Regions from separate parts of the Homo sapiens genome. Here region 1 is linked to region 2. Evidence: fine-mapped expression QTL. A gene starts in region 2. The other region holds a variant in brackets. All regions are shown on one strand. Distances are between the middles of the regions. Region 1 has its middle 37 kb from the start of RSPO4. Region 2 holds the start of RSPO4 (R-spondin 4).

Region 1 (5,373 bases), 37 kb before region 2:
CATCACACACTATCCAGCCATGGTTACTGATGTTTCATCAAAGTAACAACCTGTGTTACTTTGGGTTTCCTGGTGAGTGCCTGAGCATCAGCAGTCAGAGGCCTTTTCTGTTTAATCTTTCATTCATTTACTCATTCATTCACTAATTCATAAAGGATTTGTTTATTTGCTTAACAAACACTTCTCAAGGGCCTCCTCCATGCCAGGTGCTGGGTCAGGTGCTGAGGCCCCATGTCTGAACAGTCAGGCTTCCTGCCCTGGAGGAGCTCATGGTCTCATGGAGAGAATAGATGAGAACCATCCATGCCAACAAGTAAATATAAAAAAGCAGTGATGACTTCCATGAAGGAAGCAAAAAAGAGGTTGAGAGATGATGTCAGAGAAATCCTACTTACTATAGGGTGATCAGGGAAGCCTTCCTGGAGGCAACAGTCAAGTTGAAACTCAGAAGATACAAGGAACAGCCATGAGAAGAGTGAAGAGGAAGATGTTCCAGGCAGAGGGAACAGCGTGTGCAAAATCCCTAGGTAAGAAAGAGTTTGGCATGCTGAAGAAATAGAAAGAGGCTAGGTTGGGGATAGCAGAGCAAGCTAGGGGCAAAAGAGTGGGAGACAGGGCCAGGACACATAGAGCCTGGTAGGCCATGGAGAAGAGGTGGGTTTTTGCTCAGAGCACAGTGGGGTACCATTGCAAGCTTTCAAGTGGGAAAATGAGAAGATCTATTGGATGCCAGGTAGGTGGGACCACAGGAGGCACCTGGGCAAGAGATGCTGCACATTAGGCCTCTTCCCCACACCCAATCCTTTAATCCCCCCATTTGTACACACCTTGTGATGGGAACTCAGTACCTTGGAATATAATCCCCTCCATTGTTGGATAGTTTGAGCTGATGGAACATTATCCCTTTTATCAGTGACCCTCAAATGTTTTCATCTCAGCACACTTTATATCCTTAAAAATTATTGAGGACCCCAACAAGCTTCTGTTGATGTGGATTATATCCACAGCCAGGACTAGAGTGAGTTAAACGAGGCACTTGCCTCAGGTTTAAAATTTGTGTGCCAAAAATATCAGTAATTAGGACATTTTAATGCAATATTTTGAAAAATTCACACTGAAGCCTGAGATGAAAGGAAAAATCAGTAGTATTAGTCTTCTCTTTATTTACAGTTTTAGTATTTTGTTCATCATGAATGTTTTTGCATTAATTTTTTTCATTGCTATCAGAGTGATGGTGGCATCACATGTCATATCAACTTTGGACAACCCCACTGAGGGTTAGAAGAACAAATAATGTCTTAGTGTTGTTGTGAATATAGTTTTGACCATGTGGATGCCCTGGAATGGTCTCAGGAACCCCACAGATTCTGGACTGTACTGTACTTTGAGAACCATTGCTTTTTTTTTTTTTTTTTTTTTAGACAGGCTCTTGCTCTATTGCCCAGGCTGGAGTGCAGTGGTGCAATCTCGGCTCACTGGAACCTCTGCTTCCCATGTTCATGCAATTCTCCTACCTCAGCCTCCTGAGCAGCTGGGACTACAGGTGTCTGATGCCACACCCAGCTAATTTTTGTATTTTTAGTAGAGATGGGGTTTCACCATGTTGGCCAGGCTGGTCTTGAACTCCTGATCTCAAGTGACCTGCCCGCCTCAGGATTACAGGTGTGAGCCACCATGCCCAGCCTGAGAACCACTGATTTTGATAAAACCAAAATCTTCATGGAGTTTCCACCATTCAATCTTAGGTCTATACCCCAGGGCTCCACCCATGTCTGTCTTCAAGGGGGCAGTAGCTGAGAGGCTGAACTTTAGAATTCATGCTTCTTTCCATCTAGTCCACGCTCAAGGTCTCCCAGAGCATGGGATTCCCACCCATCTCTCCCCATCCCTCCTCTAAACAAACCCCATTTGGTTAATGTTTCTGAAAGACTGAAGGCCCCCAAATTCCCAGGTGTGGCCTGAGCAGTACGGAGGTCCCTGTGGACCTGTCACCTCCCCCTTGAGACACGCCATTTCTATTCCCACCTCTGGGTCTATCTAAGCCCCCAGCCACCTGTCCCATAGTTCCTGTCCCTCATCCCTCCTGGCGTTGTGATTTGAGTGTGCAAAACCTCTCTGGGCTCCTGAAGAGCAGGCATCCTACCAAGAAATAGCAATGCAGGCAAAGAAAACCTCCAACGTATTAAGCTGGCTTCGTTAGGAGGCCAACTTCTGAAAATTCAATTTGCTGGTGGTAGAAACAGGATATTGAGTCTGGCCAGGATGGGCTCTGAGGAGGGCATCTGAGGGGGAAGAAAGGAGGCAGCAACCTGCGGGGGTAACGGTAACGTTGGGTACATTCCTCGGCAACACTAAAACCCACTGCTAATCACAAACAGATTCCTGCCTGCCCAGGGGCTTTCTTTGTTCACTCCGATTTCTCCCTCCAAACATGACACTGAATCCACCAGGCTCTGCCTCTCTTGGACTTCTGTCACTTCTGTGGGCCTCAGTTTCCCTGTGCTATATGAGAGGACTGGGCTAGGGTCTGTAATCCAAGCCTAATATCCCAGGATCTAAACTTCTCTGACTTAAAAGTCCCCAAGAATCTGGAATTCCAGGATTATAACATGCCCAGATTTTATGACGGCAGAATTTGATGAGTCAATGATGGCAGGTTCTAAAGTGCTATGATTTTAAGACTCTGTGGCTTGAAGATCCTGACCTTGTGACTTTCTACGATTCTAAAATTTGAAGAGTGTAAGTCTCAACGACTTTAAGTGTCTGTGAGGCAGTGCTGTGTGCTTTAGAGCCAGGCGGCCAGTGACCCTGGGCAAGTTACACCTTTCAGTGCCTCCGTCTTCACATCTGTGAAGTGGGGGGTCACATTGTTACTACCTTCTGGGGTGGTTGTGAGGATTAAAGGCGTTGATATTTGTAAACAATGTCTGGAGTAGTAAGTACTCAGTAAATGTTTTGTACCTATCATTATTCTAAAATGAACAGTTTCTACAGCCTCAGAATCTGAGATGGACCTCAAAGGCCCC[A/C]GAGTTGTAAGTTTCAAAGAATCCATTGTTGAAAGATTCAATGACATACGAATTCTGTCAGCTGGCTATGGACATACCATGTTTGGGCGTCCTTGACCCAGGATCATGGGATTTACCATGGGCAAGCTGAAGAGGCTGGCTGGCCAGCCTGAACCTGCCACTCTCAGCCACAAAACCAATGAGCATGACAAGTTTGGGACCCTCAACTCCTGAGAAGTGCCCTCCTCTTCCCCCAACACTTACCACTGGGGATAACTTGACCTTCTGGCTAAAGGCTCATTGACCTTGACTAGCTCCTGGAATCCATAAAGACACAGGAAGACCATCACTCCCCTAGCTTGGAACTCCATTCCTGAAGGACCTGCTGTGGCTCCCTACTGTCTTTCAAACCAAGTTCTATTTCTCAGTTCTTTTGGAGCCCCTTAATATCTTGTTCACTTCCAGGTAAGTAAAGATAATCCGGAATGGGGAAGGGAGAACTGGGATGGTTCATCGGAAGTTACTTCTAGGTCCAGGTGCATTTGTTCATTCTTATTCACAACACAGATATTAAATATCTATTATATGCCAGTCTCTCTTCTGGGCTCTGAGGACACACAAGTGAATAAGACAGACAAGGTCCCTGTTCTTGAGACCTCACAAGACTCCCTGACTCACTGTAGAGCATTATTCTCAGGGTAGAAGAGTACAGGCCATTTCCCAGCTGCACAACCTTGAACCAATGCTCTGGGCGTCGTTTGTAAAATGGGTCAATAACACTACCTACCAGATAAAGTTATTGCAAAGATTAAAAGAGATGGTAAAGAGCTTGGCACAGTGCACGGCACATAGTCTACAATCCATGAAAGCTGCTTATTATTATTATTGTTGTTACTTCATTTCTACCTCCAGCTCCTTTTACAGCACTTAGTGTGGTGGCTAAAAGCCCGACAGACCTGGACTCAAGTCCTGGGATATTAAAGATGGATAATCATCGTGCCTGCTTCCCAAGGCTGCTTACCTGGCATGTTGGCCATACCCAGCCAGGGCTCAGATGGTAACAGAGACACATTCTCACTTTCCTCCACTCTTTCCCCGAGAACCCATCCCAACCAGCCTCACTACCTGCATCAGGTCCCACACAATGCACAACCTGAGCAACTTCCTTTCCTCTTTGGGTTCCAGTGTCTTCCACATAGGGCCTGAGTAAAACTGGCTCTAAGACATGGGCTGAGACATTTGGGCATGACACAAAGGGCAATAGGGAGCCAAAGCTGGCGCTAGAGAGAGGGAGTGTCCATCTAAAGGGTGTCCCCTGTCTTCCAGTGGTTCCTCTATACCCTTTGCATCTCATCCTCACAGCTGCCAGGGGCTTGCTCCTGCCAATGCTGGCCATGAGTCCCTGGCCTGTTTGGGGGTTAGGTTATTTTTTCATTAAGTTTGTAATTATTTTTAAAATGCAAGTCAAATAGTGATGTGCTGAGCTGAGCAGCGGGGAGGTTAAAGCTTTTTCCCTGCCTGCGGCCTGCTTGGCCCCTATGCTGTTCTGGGTAATGGGGAACATTTTCGGGAAAATAAACAAGGAGGCCTTGATTCTTTGGGGACTTTATGAACTTGACCCCACCCCGACTCCATACCCCACCCCGTTAGCAGGCCTGGTCGCCCTCCCTGTTAATTAAAGGGGAGACTAGTTTCCAGGGCAATTTCAGCTCTGGCCGGGCCTGTGCCCACATCCTTAAGAGGGAGGCCATGGTGATGGGCCGGCTGGGCGGCTGGTGGCCTTGGAGGTAACAATTTGTCTTGAGATGGAATCCACTCCCCTGAATAAAGGGACTTTGTGTTCTCTCCCATTCTCATGCCCCCCTGGTCCCCATGGAGGGATTAGAGGGGAAACATCTGTGGTTCCCCAAGAACAGTGACCGCCATGGTAGGCAGCTCTTAGGCCACTGCCTGGGCCAGCAGGACTTTCTCATGCACACTGGGCCTCTGTCTGTCCTCAGAGCTCTGCCTTCTCATAGAAAACATGGATCCACGCAATCACTGGCTCATTCATTTGTTCACTCAACAACTCTTTATTGAGCATCTACTGATGTACCAGGTGCTCACAGGCACCGAGTGTATGGAGGTGAAAAAGCAAAGCTCCCCCTGGTCATGGAGCCCATGATCTAGTGGGGTCGACAAACCTAAAGATAAATAAGTCAATCAAATCCATTGGCAGGCAGTCAGACATAAAACAAGTTAGTAGAGAGAAAGTGACAGGTGGGTGGGGATCCTCCAAGGAGGTGGCATCTGAGCAGGGACCTGCAGGTGGAAAGGGGTGAGCTGAAAACAGTGGCACTTAGCAGGGACAGGTCAACCTCATGCCTCC
Region 2 (5,311 bases):
GACTCCAGTACTGGGGGTAGTGGGGAAGGGAATGACCTCCGCTTTCCTAAGGCTTGATCTTCTGGGGTCACCTCATTTCTCCAAGTACCTGCATTCCATGTACAGGCTGGGAGACTTGTGCATCTGGAGAATTCATTCATTCACCATTCATTTATTTATGCACTCATTATGCAAACATTCTGAGCACCGCTGTGTGTCTGGCTCTGGCTTGAAAGAGATGGCAGTTTGGAAGGAGAACAGACACATCCATTGTTACCACCTGATGTGATCAGAGCTGTGATAAAGAGATTGTGGATGCCCAGAGGAGGCACTGGACCTGGCCTGAGAATCAGGGAAGGCTTCCTGGAGCAGAGGCAGTGAAGAAGGAGGTAGGATATAGGATGGTATTCCATGGAGAGGCCCCACAACATGAAAAGCTCAGAGGTGTGAGAGGCCTGTGGTGTTTGTGAAATATTCAAGGGCTGAAATCTCTAAGGCTAAAGAGAGAGGGGTGGGGCAGTGGGAAAGACTGAGATCAGAGATATCAGAACAAGAGGTCCTTGCAGGCCATGGTGATGACCACAATGGGACACCTGGATGCCCATGTCAGCTCAGTCCTTGACTCACTGGGTGGCCTAATCTAGGCACCCCCCAGTCCTGAAGGCTCAGTGGCCTCATCTGTGAAATGGAGCACTTTGGGTGGGCTGTCTCTGACATTCCACCAAGTTCTCCGTGTTGTCTGCCAGCGTTCTTGGGGCCCCACAGAAAGAATGGCCAGGCCAGGGCTGTACCTTCAGCTGCCACACTCTCTGTGTGTTTCCCCTGCCCCTGCCATGCCTTCAAGTGTCCCTCATTGCACTGGGAGAAGGAGCTGGAGGAGATACCAGCATTTACCTTCCATTTCTTTTGGAGCAAGCTCCACATGTAGGAAAAAAGAGGACAGGCTGGGTGGGGTGGCTCACGTCTGTAGTCCCAGCACTTTGGGAGGCTGAGGCAGGTGGATCACTTGAGGTCAGGAGTTCAAGACCAGCCTGGCCAACATGGTGAAACCCCGTCTCTACTAAAAACTACAAAAATTAGCTGGGTGTGGTGGCAGGTGCCTGTAATCCCAGCTACTTGGGAGGCTGAGGCAGGAGAATCACTTGAACCCAGGAGGCAGAGGTTGCAGTGAGCCGAGATGGCGCCATTGCACTCCAGCCTGGGTGACAGAGTGAAAACCCATCTCAAAAAAAAGAAAAAAAAAAGAAAAGAAAAAGGAAGGACAATTGTTCAGCAAGAGAGTGTCAACTGTAAGTTTCTCTAGGCCTCCCTCCAAGGCCTCTTCCATTCTGATGAGTCTGTGCCTGAGAAGTGGCTAAGAGGGGCAGGCACTGGACCAGAATGGCCACTGACCTGCTGTGTGGCCTTGGGCAAGTCACTTGGCCTCTCTGAGCTTCCCTTTGCTCCCCAGAAAAGTGGAATTACTCAGAATACAAACCCAAACCATTGGGTTGTTTTGAAGACTCTAGTATATGTCAAGTTCTTAGCAATGCCCACCATATATGCCTCACAAATGATAGCTAGCATGATTGTTGTTGTTTTTGGTGGTTATAGTGACAGGAGAGGTGAGCATGCTGTCGGGTTGAAGGAGGAATTTTGCTCTGAAAGGGTTAAACTTGAACCAGCTGCTCCCAGTCCTGGTGATAAGGTTGGAGGAAACACAGTCCAGGTCCCCAGCCCTGTCACAAGTGGATTTATGAGGTGCTGGTCACTTTGAGTCGGAGTAGATGATCCCCGCAGACTGCACAGGAAACATTCAGGGTTAGTGGCCAGAAGGGGCTCAGGCCTCTGTTAAAAGAATGAGACAGAGTAGAGAGAAAAAGAGAAAGCCAGGCAGCAGGAGCCCCGCAAACACCCCACCCTGCAGGAGGGGAGAAGGGGAGAGATGGGGTTGAAGGGAGAGACAGAGAAAAGGGAGAACCAGAGGCCCAGCCAGGAGGACACAGACAGTGAGCCTGAGAGAGAGACGGCCGGCAAGAGTAAAGGATGCAGGAACAGCCAGGCAGGGTCGGGGGCAGAGCAGGGGAGCGCGGGCCGCGGAAAGACCGAGAAAGCAGGAGACAAGGAGTTGTCCTTAAGGGCCAGAAGGAGGAACAGACAGAGAAAGGGGACTGGGGGGAGGGAAAGAAAATCACAGGCGCTGAGAGGGCGCGGGGGACCGTACGGGTCTCCGGGTGTCCGCGCATCTGTACCTGCGCGCGCGTGCGTACCTGTGGCTGGCGGTGGGCACGTGCACGTGCTCGGGGGCAGTGCTGGGGGCGGGAAAGACGCAAGACCGCCGGCTGCGGGACAGATCGAACTCGAGGGCCCCGACCCGGGTGACCCCCGCCCCCTCCCCGCGCGCGCTCCCGGGCCCCGAGCTGGTTAACGCGCCGCCCCCGCCGCGCCGGCTCCTCCCCGCCAGGGCAGTGCCCCGGCTCCGCCAACGCCCTCACTAGACCTGGCGGCCGGACCGACCCGCGCCTGGCGGATGCGCCCGGCGCGCCCACAGCAGCCCCCGCGCCCGCCGTGCCGCCGCCGGGACGTGGGGCCCTTGGGCCGTCGGGCCGCCTGGGGAGCGCCAGCCCGGATCCGGCTGCCCAGATGCGGGCGCCACTCTGCCTGCTCCTGCTCGTCGCCCACGCCGTGGACATGCTCGCCCTGAACCGAAGGAAGAAGCAAGGTACAAGGGGTGGCTGGGCAGGGCGGCCGGGCAGGCGCTGCGGGGCAGACCGGGGGCCGGAGGACCGGGGGCGGCGGCTCTGGGGGCATCTGCCTGGTGCCTGGCGCCCTGGGTCCTTCGCTCCTCCAGACGAGTCTCAACCTCACTTAAGATGGGGAGATTGAGGCTCCAGGGCACCCAGTGAGCGAGCCATTGAGTAGGGTGGGCCAAGGAGACTCACCCAGAAGGGAGAGGGTAGCAGGGCTCTCTGTAGTAGCCGCATGGTCAGCAGAAAGGAGGATGGCTTCGTGCAGAGACAGAAGACTCAAGAGCCAGCCTGCGGGGCACAGGGACTAGGAGACAGACTCAGTGGCGTAGAAGCCATTCCAAGCATCCATGCTCGGCCAGGAAGTGACATAGAGAGCCTTGGGCTGGGCGTCCAGAGGCCCCAGTCCCAGCCTCATCACTCACCCTGACTCCTGGTGTCACCTCCCAGAGGGCAGTGATCCTCCATGGCCCCCCTATGTTGAGTTCAGCCAGACCTGAGACCTGAGTTCAGGTTCACTTATTCTAATAGGGGATGACCTAGAAGAAGTCCAGCCCCTCAGAGAGCCTCAGCTTTTCCATCTTCACCTCTCAGGCCACTAGGAAGATGAGCCAAGGTTCAGATTATAAATGTACCAGGGGCCGCATGCGCTCTCACCTGGGAGTCCTATGCCACAGCCTCGCTGTGAGAGTCAGAACATCCTCAGAAGGTGGGTTGGAGGCTGTCCCTGCAGAGCAGGAGTTGGTAGAGCCTGTGCCTCAGAGAAGGGTAAGCGGGTGAGCAAGTGAGCAAATCGCCTGCCTGAGCTGGGCAGCCCTTTGGCCTCCAGGTGCCACTCTTAAGATCAGCAGCCGAATGCCAGCCACTATGCCACGGGTTTTTCATGTCCTAGCTCATCAAATCCCAACTATATGCTCATGACATAGGGGTCGTCCAGTTTTAATAAAGCCTGGGATTCCAAGGCTCAGACTGGTTTAAATAACTGCTGAATTGTCCAGCTGGTGTCTTCTCTCTTTCCAGCCCTGGCATCGGGTCTGAGCAAGGATAAAGGGGAAGGAAAATGAGAGAGGATGGGTTGCCCTCTGGGGCCTTCCATTTGTGTGAAAGCCCTACAGCGACACAGTCACTCCTGGAACGGAGCAGGAAGCAGACAGAGGCTGTGGGAGAATTGGGAGGTGGGATTGGATGGGGTTGGGGAGACTGTGGCCCAAGAGGCTCCAGTTCTTGCTGTGACAGTGGGACAAGGGACTAGAGAGGCGTGTGGTTTTCAGCTGAGCTGGGGTGAGTTTGGGACTCTATGGGGACACTCCTTTGTGAATGGCCTTTGTTTAGTAGTTAGGGGCATGGGCTCTGGAGCCAGGTCAACTGAGTTCAAATCCCAGCTTCCCCAGTTACCAACTGAGTGACTTTGGATAAGTCACTTTGCCTGTCCAATCCTCACTTTACCCATCTGAGGGTCCTTTAGAAGATCTCTGAGATCTTTCTCCATTCTAAACAATACCAAAAAATCAAACAAACCCCCTTTCCCTTCATCAACCCATCTTTTACTTAAGTATCCTGCTCATAAGGAGGATTGTGGGCAAGATGAGTAGCTAAGGACACAGGCTCCTAATGGGTGCTCGTAAGTATTAATCATTCTCATTTCCTGTCCACTGTGTCTTTGGCTACTCACAGTGGCTTAGTGGAGGGAGGGGAGAGATGCTTGTTTTCTGGATGAGGGAACTGAGGTTCAGAGAAGGAAACTGACTTGTCCAAGGTCGCACAGCAGGTGAGTAGCAAAGCAGGCTCGAATCCCAATCTGCCTGACATAATGCTGAGAAGATATCTTCTGAGGTGTGCTGGTCTTCCCTTCTCAGAGCCTCAGTTTCCTCATCTAAAGAGGAGCTGGTTTAGGCCAGGTGTGGTGGCTCACGCCTGTAATACCAGCACTTTGGGAGGCCAAGGCAGGCGGATCATTTGAGATCAGGAGTTTGAGACCAGCCTGGCTAACATGATGAAACCCTGTCTTTACTAAAAATACAATGATTAGCTGGGTGTGGTGGCGGGCGCCTGTAATTCCAGCTACTTGGGAGGCTGAGGCAGGAGAGTCGCTTGAACCCAGGAGGCAGAGGTTGCAGTGAGCCGAGATCATGCCACTGCACTCCAGCCTGGGTGTCAGAGTGAGACTCTGTCTCAACAACAACAACAACAACAAAAAGGAGCTGGTTTAGAAGACTTTAAGATGCTTCTCAGCTCAAAAAAGACAAAAAAATTAAAGAAAAATGAAAAATTCCTATCCTGCCCCTTTTGCCCCCCGCCCCATCTACAGCTCACCACCACCTCCCCAGGAGCTCAGTGAGGAGGTAGGGATATGGCCGCAATTTGGTGAGGGGCTCTCAGCATCCCTCCTCCAGTACCTGATCTCTTGCCTCTGGGACACACACCTGCCTAGCATCTTCAGAAGAGGCTTAGGGCTCCATTTATTTGTTGGGGTACAATGGAGATAGCCTTGGATTTCAGTCACACCCCTGACCCAGTTGTATCATGTGACCTTGGGTGAGTGGATTTTCTCTGTCCCCCGCCCATAGCCTCAGTTTCCCACTGGCACTGCAGTGGGGACCAGAGCT

The links. PIP is the estimated chance that this variant, and not a neighbour inherited with it, causes the effect.
Region 1: its variant is the best candidate, but not a certain one, in a credible set for the expression of RSPO4 in sigmoid colon (GTEx, PIP 0.66).

The regions. Positions count from the first base shown.
Region 1 is chr20:1,036,143-1,041,515 of GRCh38, reverse strand. No RefSeq gene overlaps it. Among named protein-coding and RNA genes, the nearest start is that of RSPO4, 37 kb to the right of the region's middle. The variant A/C (reference allele first, on the strand shown) is at 3,027.
Region 2 is chr20:999,455-1,004,765 of GRCh38, reverse strand. RSPO4 (R-spondin 4) reads left to right here and starts at 2,455. Exons shown (of 5, transcript NM_001029871.4): 1 at 2,455-2,680. The coding sequence starts at 2,602.